Homo sapiens: one gene and its partner. The protein of the gene in region 1 purifies or fractionates together with the protein of each later gene. This does not show direct contact. Each region holds a gene or a part of one and is shown in the gene's direction. Other genes may lie near its edges.

Evidence for each region. The genes of interacting proteins can lie anywhere in the genome.
Region 2: the proteins of GFPT1 (region 1) and GARS1 fractionate together in Homo sapiens (co-fractionation; 3 studies listed by BioGRID, with this or other methods). This does not show direct contact.

What each region holds. Positions count from the first base shown.
Region 1 is NC_000002.12:69,384,219-69,391,518, reverse strand, and holds the start of GFPT1 (glutamine--fructose-6-phosphate aminotransferase [isomerizing] 1), read left to right. Parts: upstream 1-4,291; 5' UTR 4,292-4,447; coding exon 4,448-4,454; intron 4,455-7,300.
Region 2 is NC_000007.14:30,597,865-30,604,890, forward strand, and holds part of GARS1 (glycine--tRNA ligase isoform 1 precursor), read left to right. Parts: intron 1-931; coding exon 932-1,033; intron 1,034-2,082; coding exon 2,083-2,185; intron 2,186-3,194; coding exon 3,195-3,336; intron 3,337-5,169; coding exon 5,170-5,258; intron 5,259-5,631; coding exon 5,632-5,708; intron 5,709-7,026. UniProt on the Homo sapiens protein: Catalyzes the ATP-dependent ligation of glycine to the 3'-end of its cognate tRNA, via the formation of an aminoacyl-adenylate intermediate (Gly-AMP).

The sequences.
Region 1 (7,300 bases):
ACATGAACTCTGGCATTCTGGCTGCAGGGCCTATGCACATTATAGCTATACTATTCTGCCTTAAGGAAGTTGGGCTCATACCCCTCTTGAGTATTCCTACTTGAGGGAGGAGAGAAGCTTTCCTTGCTTTCATAGCTACTTACGAGTGGGCAAGAGTCTAGAACCACAGTAGACAAAAGCAGTGGTATGTACATGTGTGTCCATTTTTTTATGCAGGAATATGAAACTAGTTGCTTTCCAGTCCAGAGGGAATCTACACCCCTCTTGGGAAATCCCAGCCATATACTCCATTTTGCCATATCAGTGTTATCTGTGATTATTCCCTAGGAGCTTACAAGATACACAGAAGCAACTTTTCAAGTATCCCTTGAAAGAAACCCTAGAAAAATAGTACTTTTTCTGTGTCCTTACGTTTCAAGTGATCTTTCAGTTCTAGGCAGCTCCCTGAATGGTCCACCCCTTATTGTGGCTCTGTTCACATCCAACAGGACAGAAATAGTAGGTTAAAGGTAGGACCAGTTTATCTCATGGTTTTCAATTTGTTGACTTTCTTGGCAGTAGAAAGAGTTTCTTTCTCGCAGAGCTAGAAAACTCTGCCCCAGCTTCTGCCTACTGGAAAAATTTGGAGCCACGTTGGAGAGGAGTATTGGGGAGGGCATAGCTTCTAGTTGGAGTTAGCATCCTTTGTCCTCAAGCCTCAGGTTTTCTGGGGGGCAATCAGGTCATATTTGCTTGATGCGGTGGACATATTTTTTTGTGTGCCTTCTTGGTGTTCTTCTTTTAGCAACACCTTCCCCTTTCCTTTGAAGAACTGCTTCCTCTTGCCGTATGTGGCTATATGACTCTATAGGGCTTTGGTGGAGCTGTCCTATCACAATGTCTTGCCTTCTTTGCCACAGGAGTGGGGCATGTGACTCACGCTGGACTGGCCAGAATCCTTGTCTAGAATATAAAAAGTAAGGATGGAGGAATAGCCTCTCTCATTTTGGGCTGCAAGCTATAAAGTTGTGATTACAGAGCTATTTGAGGATTATTTCCCTGTCCATGAGGTCAGAGAGGTAGTTCAAGAGTTCTGACAACATTCTGTCCCTGGGTATAAATGTGCTGAAAGCTGTTTGTATTCCTGTTCTTTCCAATTACGTGAGCTAGTAAATCCCCTTCTTTAGTTTGAGTGGTCTTCTATTTATTATTTGTCAGTGAAAGCTCTGCCCTCTAGGCACATCTTTCACCATGACTGTGAGAAATAAATTTGTGAGAGCTGCATCCTTGAAGAGCTCTGTGAAAGCTCTTTCTGTGGGAGTGCTGCCACTGAATTGGGAAATCTAGTACTCATCCTGTGGGTGAAGAGTAACCACGATATTGGAAGCAAGGAAAAACTGGATCACATTTGTATTTTTGACAGGTCCCTCTGGAGCCAAAGTGTGTGGGATGAACTGCGGGAGGCTAAAGGGGTTCACTCAAAGGGTCTTTCTGAGGCCTTGATTGGTGCCTTTTGTTCTTGTCCTCATTTCTTTTCACAGGCCTCAGGGGCTCAACCTATTTCTTTTTCCTTTGATACTTGCTACCATCTTCTCTGTCCACTGGGGTACATTTCTCCACAAAGCTCCCTAAAAAGTAGGACATATGTACCCCAGCTCCCCATATTCTTATGCAAAGGAATTTTTATTTTAATAATTTTATTGCTATTACTGGAATTCACATAAGGGTTAATAAAAATGACTACAGCTATTTCAATTAAGGTTCTTCGTTGCGTTAGTAATGGCAACTGGAAGCTCTGATGGCCTTCAGCCATCAGATCCAATGGGACTGAATCTACGAACAGGGAAATGGACTTACATAAAGAGATGGTGAATGACACCCCCTTGCCATCATTACTTTTTTTGTTGTCGTTCAGAATGTTTTGATCAGGAGAGAAAATCCATTCCCTCATTTGTTTGAATTAGACCCAGATGTCCCCTTCCCTTCATAGATCATTTATTTTCTTCTCCTTCAGGCCTTATTCCCAAAGGTCCAGTTAAGGCGGAGCTCTGTATAAAGGGAGGTCAGGCACCCAAAGTGTGTATCTTAACTGGCGCATGGTTACAAAGAGTTCTTTGTTGTGTTGGGTTAGTGAGGTTCTTCAAGGCTGATTTGGGAAAATACTGTCCTTCAAAGTTTCTTCTCTTTTTTGTCAAATTATTTTTTTATTTACTTTTTTTTTAACTTTTTTTTTTTTTTCTGAGTTGGGGACTTTCCAGTCTTTACTGAAAACTTTTAAAAATTTGTATTTAGACAAATTCTAAAAGACCTGTAACACTAGTTTCTTCTTCTCAACTGATTCATAAATATCTTCCAAAATAGTTTGTTGAGTGGAGATGGATAAGACAAATTGATAGTCATTGTGGTGGAGTAGCAGGCAGAAGAAGAAAGCAAAGGGTTAAATAGATTACTATAGTTGGAGCATGAGAACTCTGGTAGTACTGCTGACATTTTCTTTGTGGCATTGACAGGTTTGCTGCCAGTGCACAAAGATGTTGCTTAAGCATTGGAACCATACCTTGGCTTTTAGGTAATACAACGGAGTTCTAACCAGAGCCTTAGATGAGGGTTCTGAGGCTAGATGTATATCCACAGTCTTTTGTTTCTTGAATTAAGAAATGTATTATTACCAAAAAGCTCACTGTTTTTTTTTTTTTTAAACTTTGCTCTGGGTGATCCAGGGACCTGTTTAAGGGATTGAAATATCAAAAGGGCTTTTAGGTGAGAAATACTCTGCTTAGTTAAATGTGACATTTTTCAGCTTCTCTGAGGCAAGTGAAAAAAGGCACTTTTCCCCGTAAGAAGAACTGAAAGCCTTATGCTCACTTAATCATATAACCAGCCATAGAAGGTTAATTCCGCTAAGAAAATAGGACTTTTTTTCACTCATTCCAAAATAAATTTGATCTTTTACTTTGTGCTGTGGTCTAAAAGTGTTGGGTATGTAAAATCTAGTTCTAGCTTCAAGAAACTTACAGCCCAGTGGGAAAATACAGAAAATCATAAAATATCAAAGAATATTTCTTTACAGTGAGTAGCTCAAAGAGTAAGAGGTTAATGCATGTCTCCAAGTCTGTCTAGGGGGGATAAAAAAGGCTTTCCTGAAGAGGTAGCATCTAAACAGAGACGTGGTGGGGATTCTATGCAGAGTAACCAAAGTGTGCAAAAGATTTGAGAATCTTGGCCCAGTTGAGGAACTACCTGTTGAGCCTGTTGGGAGTGTATAGGGCTGGAAGGACGGCTAAGACCAGACACATGAACAGCAGTCAGCAGGCTAAGACCAGACACATGAACAGCAGTCAGCACTCCAGGAATTCTGTGTGCCATGTACGTTTTTGATACTACTCTACTCTAGAGCCATTATAGAGTTCTGATTACTCCACATTTGACTAAAGATACCATTTAAGGCTGTTTAAAGCAAATGCCCAGGTAATAAATTCTCAGAAACATCATCCCTCTCTAATCAAGTCTCTCTTGTCAGACATGGCGCATTAATTCATAGAATGAATCGTTCGTAAGTCAAACGCGCGGCTGTTAAAGCTAGGGAATTCCTAGCCGTCTCAGGTGGGTCATGGGAGGAGGTGGGCCAGCAGTTTCTTACGTCCAGGCTCATAGTCGGATAGTTGAGCCTTACATTCCTCCTCTACCCCTCCACAATAAACTGAGGGTTATGGAGGCAACGGATGCGGAGGGCTTTTAGGGGCCAAGCATATTACACAAGGAATTGAATTGCTTATTACCAGAGAGGCTGACCTTTGGGGCTTTACAGTCAAGAATTTTGTTATCTCTCTCCTCCCACCTCAACCTAATTCTTTGCAATTTTTTTCAGCCTTATGTTCCCCAGGATTCCCTTTTCATACTTCCTGCTTTTTTCCTCCTCTTTCCTCGCTTCGTGCAGTGCTGGCGCCTGGGGCCTGGGGCTGCACGGGGCACGCACCCGGGCTATTGCTTTGCTAACAATTCCATCCTTCTCTTTCCGTCATTCCCTGCCAGGTGCTGAGTTTCTCCCTCCCTCTCGGCTCGGTCCCTCCCGCGGCTCGCCCCGGGGCGGGCGTCTCCAGGAACTCCAGGCGGACGCGGCCACGAGCCACTGCCACGTCGCCGCCGCCAGCAGTCCAGCGCCTGCGTGGGCTCGGGGGGCGGGGCAGCGCTGGGAGGCGGGACTTGCGCGTGAGCGGCGCGTGAGCGGTTCAATGGAGCCTACGGGCGGCGGCGCGCTGCGCGCCGAGGGGCGGGGCCCGGCGGCGGTTGCTGGCGGAGCCCGGGAGGCGGAGAAGGCTGTCGTTGCCTTGGCCGTCGCATCCCCGAGGGAGTCGTGTCGGCGCCACCCCGGCCCCCGAGCCCGCAGATTGCCCACCGAAGCTCGTGTGTGCACCCCCGATCCCGCCAGCCACTCGCCCCTGGCCTCGCGGGCCGTGTCTCCGGCATCATGTGTGGTAAGGGGGCCGGGAGCGGGGGGCGTGTTGCCGGGTGGCGCTGGGGTGCGGTGCGGGTGCCGCTAAGGCCCAAGGCGACGGGCGGAAGCGGGAGTGTGGAGGGTGCGAAGTCTGGGTGATGGGCAAGGGGCGCCCAGTGGTGGCTGCGGGGGCGGGGGCCGGCATCCACGGGCGGGAGAGGGGGTGGCGGCCGGGAGAAAGGCACCTGAGAGGAAGGCGGGCCCCCTTTGCCGGGGGCTAGCGGGCGCCTTGGCGCGGAGAAGGAACCGAAAGGGGAGAGAAACGCCTTTATTGAAAAAGGAGGAGAGAGCTGAGGGAATTGAGGTGTGGAGGGGGTTGCCTTCAAAAGGGCCCACCAGGTGAGTGAGGAAACCTGTGGAACCTCGGGCGAGGTCTCTTGAACTTACCTTGCATTTTTCTAAAAATCTTTAAAAAAATATTTTACTTGTTTCTGGGGAGGCCCAATAGAAAACAGACCCTAGCTAGAGCCACGGTAGTGCCATTAAACGTGATACTTCCTGCCATCCCTTGTCTCAACAGAAACCATTGCTAATCAATAACTTGGTTCATGGGCTTAGACCTGATCCTCTGGTGGAAGAGGCCTTCAAATGTCTGTGGCGATAGGTTATACATAATTTATCATTTGCGTGTGCACCCATTAAAAATGCCAGCTCTGAAAAATATCAGTTATACCTTGGATGTATACCCCTTTAGAATACCAACTATGAAAAATATCATTTATCCCTTGCATGTGCATCCATTAAAAATACTAGCTATGGAAAGTTGAGCAAATATCTTTCCTAGAGCCTTAAAAAATTAAGGTTAGGCCCTTTTATTCCATGTTTTGAGAGTCGTTTATTATGACCTAAGTGTTAGTGAAAGAGACTTTGAGAATCGTGTCTGACATGACTGATATCTTCTAAAATTGGTGTTAATTTGGCTATTGCCAGTAAAAATAATTGTATTCTTACCTTTCTTATTGAAATTTACAACCGACTTTATCCCTGGAAGAAAGTACACTTTTTTTTTTTTTTTTTAAAGGGAAGTACCATTGTAAGAGAATTGAAAACTCTCTGGGAGACTTCTTATTTGCAGCCTTTTACACGAAGGAACTGAACAGGAGGTGGATTGTACTCGTTAGTGTATATATTTCCTGTATTTAACTTTATGCTCATTTCAGCTTCTGAAAATGAGGAGCAGGTTTAAATTTAGAGTAGATTAAAAAAAAACCCACATAAAAACAGAAACACCTATAAATAGCTTACTGAAATTATTAGAGTAGAGCTGACTTCAGAATCAGACTTTTGCAGTGTCTACTTAGTAGAATGGTTTTGCATTTAGTTTGGAGCTGTGAAGTAGTGAATTTGCAAACTGGTCAATCTCCAGTGTGCTTCATTTGGTAGTTAACTGTTCCTGAATGATGAGGGGTGTGCCTCATCAAGTACTCAACATTCTGGTTGCAGGTCATTTCATCATGTTCCAAGAAAAAAACGTAGTCAAAGTACTTACTGAAAAAAAAATAAATAAATAAATAAATCAGCGCTGGGCGTGGTGGCTCCCGCCTATAATCTCAGCACTTTGGGAGGCCGAGGCAGGTGGATCACCTGAGCTCAGGAGTTCAAGACTAGCCTGGCCAACGTGGTGAAACTCCATGTCTACTAAAAATACAAAATTAGCTGGGCGTGGTGGTACGCGCCTGTAATCCCAGCTACTCGGGAGGCTGAGGCAGGAGAATTGCTTGAACCCAGGAGGTGGAGGTTGCAGTGAGCCGGGATCGCGCCATTGTAATCCAGCCTGGGTAAAAAAGAGCAAAACTCCATCTCAAAAATGATAAATAAATATAAATAAATAAATCAGATATGGAAATCAGGTTCAGATAAGGGAGATACCTTTAGGGTGGAGACTAAATGTTGGGAGTTTTCACATAGTTTGTGTCTCCATTCCATAGAGTTTTACGGCTGAGGAAACAGGTATTGAAGAAATAAAAAGTGAATATTTGAGGCATTTCTGAGGTCCTGCTTTTAAGTCATACCACGGTTTTGCCTGATTCTAGGGATAGGGTTCAGAATTTATTTTCTCTCTAATGTAAATTCTGAAAGATAAGAAGATGAGTGTCATTATTTTCCTCCCACATCTTAGTCATTGAACTAAAATTCCTGAGCAGAGAAATGGAGTGAAAATTAGACTAGATGGGAAAATCTGGAAGCTTACTTTCTGATTACTTGCTATCTAGTTAAGTTTTTCTCTTTCTTTCCTTCTTTCTTTTCTTTTCTTTCTTTCTTTCTTTTTCTTTCTTTCTTCTTTCTCTCTCTTTCTTTCTTTCTCTTCTTTCTTTTCTTTCTTTCTTTTTTCTTTTTTTTTTTTTTTTTTTGTGACGGGGCCTCTCTCTGTCGCCCAGGCTGGAGTGCAGCGGCATGATCTTGGCTCACTGCAGCCTCTGTCTCCGGGGTTCAACCTCCCGAGTAGCTGGGATTACAGGGGTGTACCACCACACCTGGCTAATTTTTGCATTTTTGGTAGAGGTGGGGTTTCACCATGTTGACCAGACTGGTCTGCTGACCTCAGGTAATCCACCTACCACAGCCTCCCAAAGTGCTGGGATTACAGGAGTGAGCCACCTTACCCGGCCCTAGTTAAATTTGCCTAAAAGATTATTTTATTTCAACGTTGTGCATTGTTGAAGCAGAAGAATGAGGATTGAAGATTCTGATGTGCTTTTTTTCAATCAGATATACTGATAAAATTGATATGTTTACCAGCTTGTATTGGGATGTTAATAAGTGTTAGGAAAAAAGATCCTCTGGTCCAGTAAATTTGGGAAGCAACATATTAAATCGCGTGGTAAT
Region 2 (7,026 bases), on another chromosome or scaffold:
ACTCAGCTGAAAGTTTTTCATCCTATATAGGTAATATTTTGTTTGTTTACTCAGATGACCTATTCCACCATATTACTATAAATATGGAATTAGTATAAGTTGTTGGAAGTTAATAAAATAATTCAGAAATATTAGCAAGGAAAAAATTCCAACTGTAAAGAGAAAGGCAAAGGAAGATGAGCCAGCAGTGACTGAGAAGAATGGTCAGAGAAGTGGGAGGAAAACTGAATAATGTTTTTATTTTTTTTTGTAAGCGAGAGGAGAGAGATTTAAGAAGGTGGTCAATTTATTGGTTCTTCTGTGTTCTCAGTACAAATCTTGCTCTTTCCTACTTTTTAATCAATGCTTTTGTCTCCTCCTTTTTCACCCCTCTATACCCAAAGGAAAAAATTCACCATGTGAGCAGTTATTTGTTAACTTGCCCGTGTGTTCTTCTAGATTATTAAATGAAGAGGGCAGAGACCTTGATTCATAATGATCACTCACATAATAAACATTTGAATTGCATCATTCTTTTTTTTTTTTTTTTTTTTTTTCATTTTGAGACGGAGTCTCACTTTGTCACCCAGGCTGGAGTGTAGTAGCATGATCTTAGCTCAGTGCAACCTCCGCCTTCCGGGTTCAAGTGATTCTCCTGCCTCAGCCTCCCAAGTGGCTGGGATTACAGGTGCCCACCACCACGGCCGGCTAATTTTTGTATTTTCAGTAGCGATGGTGTATCACCATGTTGGCCAGGATGGTCTGAAACTCCTGATCTCAGATGGTGAGGAGGGCCTTTCAAAGTGCTGGTATTACAGGCGTGAGCCACCACGCTTGGCCTGAATTGCATCATTCTTACATAGACTTTTTAAAAGGCACGCTTAAAAACACATTCCTAACATTTCTTAACTTCTGAAACCAATCCTGAATATAAATTCTCTTTCTTGGCTAGGGAGATCTTGTGCGAAAACTCAAAGAAGATAAAGCACCCCAAGTAGACGTAGACAAAGCAGTGGCTGAGCTCAAAGCCCGCAAGAGGGTTCTGGAAGCAAAGGTGAGTCCTGGGATGCTAAAATAGGAACATAAGTAGGTATAGGATTGTTCATCTTTAATTTCTTTGGATGGGAGAGACCTAGAAAAGTTTCTGAACAAGTATCATTTGGTTTATCTGTTTATCCATAATGCCGCCTTCTCCTTTCCCTCTACCTGGTAGACTCCTCATCCTTTCAAAATGCAACTCAAAATGTCAACTTTTTAATAAAGCCTTCCTGACCCTGCAAATGCTGGACTCAATACGCTATATGAATTTCCATGGAAAGGATTGTGCTCTTCTTTACGACTTCTCTTATGCCTGAAAATAATGATTTTTGTTTGTTTGTTTGTTTTAAGGAAAAGGTCTGTTTATTTGATACCTGCTCCCAGACCTTTCAAACAATAGATCTCCCATCACCAAACTTAAGTTGTTTTGGGGTTTTAAAGTAACCATTTTGCTATAGCAATCCACTGACAATTCAAATATTGCTTTATATTGCTTATCAGTATCTACATCAAAGTAAACTTAGTCTTGTTTTTTTTTTGAGATGGAGTCTCGCCCTGTTGCCCAGGCTGGAGTGCAATGGTGCGATCTCAGCTCACTGCAACCTCTGCCTCCCGGGTTCAAGTGATTCTCCTGCCTCAGCCTCCCAAGTAGCTGGGATTACAGGTGCCCACCACCAAGCCCAGCTAATTTTTGTATTTTTAGTAGAGACAGTGTTTTGCCATGTTGGCCAGGCTGGGCTTGAACTCCTGACCTCAGGTGATCCACCCACTTCGGCCTCCCAAAGTACTGGGATTACAGGTGTGAGCCACCGCACCTGGTCAAGCTTAGTCTTGTAATCTTGGAAATGATCATATATTTTCCTAAATGATTAAGTAAAGATATCTTTTATATTACTCAAAGGGAAAAAAAGACCTATGGCTTCTATTGTTTTTAACCTATCAAAATCTTGTCTGTTTGATAAATTTTATATTTAATTCTGGTGAGGAATAAACTAAATTCAGATATATAAGTTCAGATTCCCACCCACCCCTCCACTCACTCACTTTTTATTTAATCTCTAACAGGAGCTGGCGTTACAGCCCAAAGATGATATTGTAGACCGAGCAAAAATGGAAGATACCCTGAAGAGGAGGTTTTTCTATGATCAAGCTTTTGCTATTTATGGAGGTAAGGGATTAATGACAAAAAGAACTATTGTGTTGTTAGTGGCTCTAATATTATACTTAAATCAAGAACATGGCTTGCCTGTTGGTATCCACTTGTATCAGGCCACAAAGCAGAGGATGGATGTTTTGCTTTTGTTTGCTTGGAGTCACCATTTGGTGTGATACCTGTTATTTTTCTCCACTGCATTTATTCCTGGACAGCACTTTTTTTGATTAGGATGTAGGGAATTGTTGGAGGCCCATGTATGTATTTGATGTGTCTGTGTACTCATGTACTCTTTTTAAAATGCAATGGAGACTGAAGAGTAACAGAGGGCCATTGTAGTACTGGCTAACTATACTATGCCCCTTCACACAGGGGCAGTGATAAAACAGTCCTTAGATTATTCTTTATGGTCATCTGCCAGGAGAAAACATTCTTCCCAGGGATGTAGATAAATCACTGTGAATGCCATATGAAGGTATATAGGCAAATACAATTCACTGATGAAATGTAAAACTATATTTTTCATAGTCAACGGATTATTACAACAACATTAGACATATAGTACTTTGCCACTGAAAGTTGACTTGAGTTTGGCTAAGTGGATCTGTAAATGTTTACCCTTTTGAGGTTAAATAGTGCCTCAAATACCCAGGAAAAAATTAGAGAATTGGATGCTAAAATTATAGATCATTGTTATCAGATGTGGTGAGAAATTATTTTGTAATTTTTACGGCAGAAAACTGTAATCTGCTTTTTCATTCTGTTCTCTAAGGGGGAACTTTTGTTGTAGATTTTGGGCTAGTCCTACTTGAAATTACAAATATAGAATTAGTAAATGGCGTAAGAGCTTTTTTATTTTACTTCCATCAGCTAGCTGAAAGTAAGGTTCTTCAGTATTGAGGGATTTGCATTGTTGACTTGAATACACTTTTAGGGAGTATAGGTATCAGTTTCTCATGTCTCCTTGCCTTCATTTGTTCAGAGTAACAAGGTAAAGTATGTGTTTTCCTCTCATATTCTATAGGTGTTAGTGGTCTGTATGACTTTGGGCCAGTTGGCTGTGCTTTGAAGAACAATATTATTCAGACCTGGAGGCAGCACTTTATCCAAGAGGAACAGATCCTGGAGATCGATTGCACCATGCTCACCCCTGAGCCAGTTTTAAAGTGAGATCTTACTTTGGAGTGGGGGTATCCTACTTTAAATAAAATAACTTATTAAATTATTTAATATACTTATCTAAATAACTTCCTGATTATAAAGAACTACTCATTTCATGTAGAAAATCTGAAAAATATGGAAAAGCAAAGAAATGTATACCTTCTGCTCACAGATAGCTATGTTAAGATGATTGTGTTTGTCCTTCCTGTTTTTTCTGTACGTCCCTATGTATTTCAGTGTTAGCAGTACACTGCTTATTTTCATGTAATATTGATGAACATATACTCATATCATTAACTATTCATCTAAAGCATTTTTAATGATAGCATAGTATTCTGTTTTATGGAAGTGCCATAATATGTTAGTTTGTGCCATATTGAAAGCATTAAAGTGTTTCTCATTTTTGACTGCACCGAATATCTTGATAGATGGATTTTTGGGTATATCCTTGATTATTTCCTTAATACAAGTTCTGAGCAAAGGTATACTTGTAGAGATTTTCAGTTAAATACTATTTGTTTTAAAGTTTCAATGCAGAAACTTAGATTATTCCTACCAACGTTATTGAAAGTAGGGCAGAATTTCCTTTTTTTGTGTGTGTGAGATGGAGTCTTGCTCTGTCGCCCAAGCTGGAATGCAGTGGCTTGATCTCGGCTCACTGCAAGCTCTGCCTCCCAGGTTCACGCCATTCTCCTGCCTCAGCCTCCCAAGTAGCTGGGACTACAGGCACCCACCACCACGTCTGGCTAATTTTTTTTTTGTATTTTTAGTACAGACGGGGTTTCACCATGTTAGCCAGGGTGGTCTCGATCTCCTGACCTCGTGATCCGCCCGCCTCGGCCTCCCAAAGTAGGGCAGAATTTCAGAATGTGAAACTGAAAGGAATTCTTTTATTTATTTATTTATTTTTTGAGATGGAGTCTCGCTCTGTCCCCCAGGCTGGAGTGCAGTGGGGCGATCTCTGCTCACTGCAAGCTCCGCCTCTCGGGTTCACGCCATTCTCTTGCCTCAGCCTCCAGAGCAGCTGGGACTACAGGCACCTGCCACCGTGCCTGGCTAATTTTTTTGTATTTTTAGTAGAGACGGGGTTTCACCATGGTCTCGATCTCCTGACCTCGTGATCCGCCTGCCTCGGCCTCCCAAAGTGCTGGGATTACAGGCGTGAGCCACTGCGCCCGGCCTGAAAGAGGAATTCTTGCCATTTTGTAACTCGTCATTATTCATTTAAGGTTGACTGGTGGAGAGCTAATTTTTACTATTGGCATCCGTTAGGTTCTCTTAATAATTTCAGCCAATGAAGAGGAGGAATTCTGAATGATGGCTCTATAAGATCAGGACTACCTATCATTTTAGCTACTTGTTCCACCAATAGGAACTTTGTAGAGATAATACCAATGTCAGTACAGGTTTCAGTGGCAGAAAACACTTCCCTTAAGGTTCAATGTCTATACTGAGCTGCCATGAATTCTTAACTAGTCAAATTCCCAGTGATTTTGGCCTTTGCTTAGATCACTAATAATAATGGCATAGGCATGGATTAATTGATCCTGAAGAATAGTACAGACTTTATGACAACTTGTAGAAAAGAATTGTCTTTTTATTGTCTAGTTAATGTCTTCTTTCTTATGGGAAGGAAGAATGTGGGAGAGGGTGAGAAATAGATTTGAGGAAGAATTTTCTCTGGCATCCATTACTGTCATGGATACATCATTACTATAGATATGGGAGCTTCCATCTTTGAGATGGATATAAATATTGATGGGGAATTATCTTATAAGGTAATATCTATGTGTAATTTGTATGAGAATGACAAATTGGGTTGGCATTTGTTAATTTAGGACCTCTGGCCATGTAGACAAATTTGCTGACTTCATGGTGAAAGACGTAAAAAATGGAGAATGTTTTCGTGCTGACCATCTATTAAAAGGTGAGGTTCTTCATCTCCTTCAGGTAGGATTGATCAAAATAAAAGGTTTAAACTTTCTCTCAGATGTCTTTCATTAAATTTTTTATTGAGGCATAACATTCAAAGAGCAAAGTGCACAGATCTTAAGTATATAGATCAAGTCCTTTATTTTTTAAAAAAGTTATATGTAGATAATTAGTTATATACAGATAATTTTTCTAATTAGCAAATGAATCAAGACAATACCATGACTGCTGTTGTAAAATCAACTGTGGGATTCATGTAAATTAAGAACTTTATGCTTGGATTTACTTTTTAATTGTCTAGCATTGAAACTGAAAAGTGCATTGTCCTTTTTCCCATTGATTGATATATGTCAACACTGTTCTTACAGCTCATTTACAGAAATTGATGTCTGATAAGAAGTGTTCTGTCGAAAAGAAATCAGAAATGGAAAGTGTTTTGGCCCAGGTGAGTACTCTAGAGATGTTATCAGAGTAACCTAGGTGGTCGCTGTCCTTCTTTCAGTGTTTAATGACTGTTGCATTTCCCATTATGCTGACCCTGGCCACATTGTAATGAAGCAGAGGTTAATTCTGTCCTGTATAGCGTCTCTTTTTTTGCATTTTTATTTTCTTCTCTCTTTTGTGACTAACCCTTTATTTCAGCCCAAACTAACAAGTCCGTGTTAATAGGCATTCAATTTGTCTGACCTTGGAAACTACTTTTCTGGATTTAATAGCTAAAACCACAGGAGTGACTGATGATGGGTAGTGTTCAGCACTGGTGTGGAGACTTCGGGGCAGATAACTTGATGAGCACTTTCTCACTGGCTACTTGATCTGCCTCTGCTTGGACCCTGATTTCATGCTATTATTCTTAGAACCTCATGAGCAGGTCCTGACTTTTCTGTCCTTGCTTTTCTCAGTTTGCCTATAGGCCTAAAGTTTTATAATTTGTATAATATTTAAGCTGACAAATTTTAGAGAAGACAAAAAAGAGACCACAGAGATAATTTATTCTGACCTTTTACCAATTGCAGGAATACTTTCTATATTAGAAGTAGTTCTTATCCTTTTGTTGGGTCACAGACCACCCTAAGAATGTGATCAAAACTGCACGTCTCCCTGGGAAGATGCATGTGCTCATGTATATATGTTGCTGGTGTCTCACCTCATCTGTTGGCTATTCCGTTTAGGCAAAGTACATTTCTCCAACACCATGTTTAGTCATGAGGTCTACTGAGGCTCACCTCTTAAATTTTATTTACTTCCTTGGGCAAAAAACAAAAAACCAATACTGTGATTATACCTATTTTCTTTACACCGATCTCTCTCTCTCTCTCTGCCTGAATATAGAACTCCCTAATATGTTGTTTTTCATGGGAATTACTGGATACTTTTCCACTGTTGTCCTAATTTTTTTTTTAGCATGCTTTTTTTCTCTGTGATAGTTAACTTTCCAACATAGCTAAAATAATTTCTCCTTCTTCATTTACATTGAAAACTTTCTTAATTTGGCTGTTGAATCATCTGCTGATTTATTTTGATACTTGTGGAGTGTAATTTTATCCCTTGCTTGAAGCTCATTGTTTTAGTAATTACTCATGGTTTAGAAAATTATTTCTTACATTTTGATACTGTTGAAGCCACACGTTCATCTCATTTTCTTATCCAAAGGCATGCCCTTTATTAGAAAAAATGGAAAATGCCTCTAAGTATCCCTAAAATTTTCCATTCAGAATTTTAGATTTACTGAGGTTTTGTGTATATGTTTTTGATCTTAACAG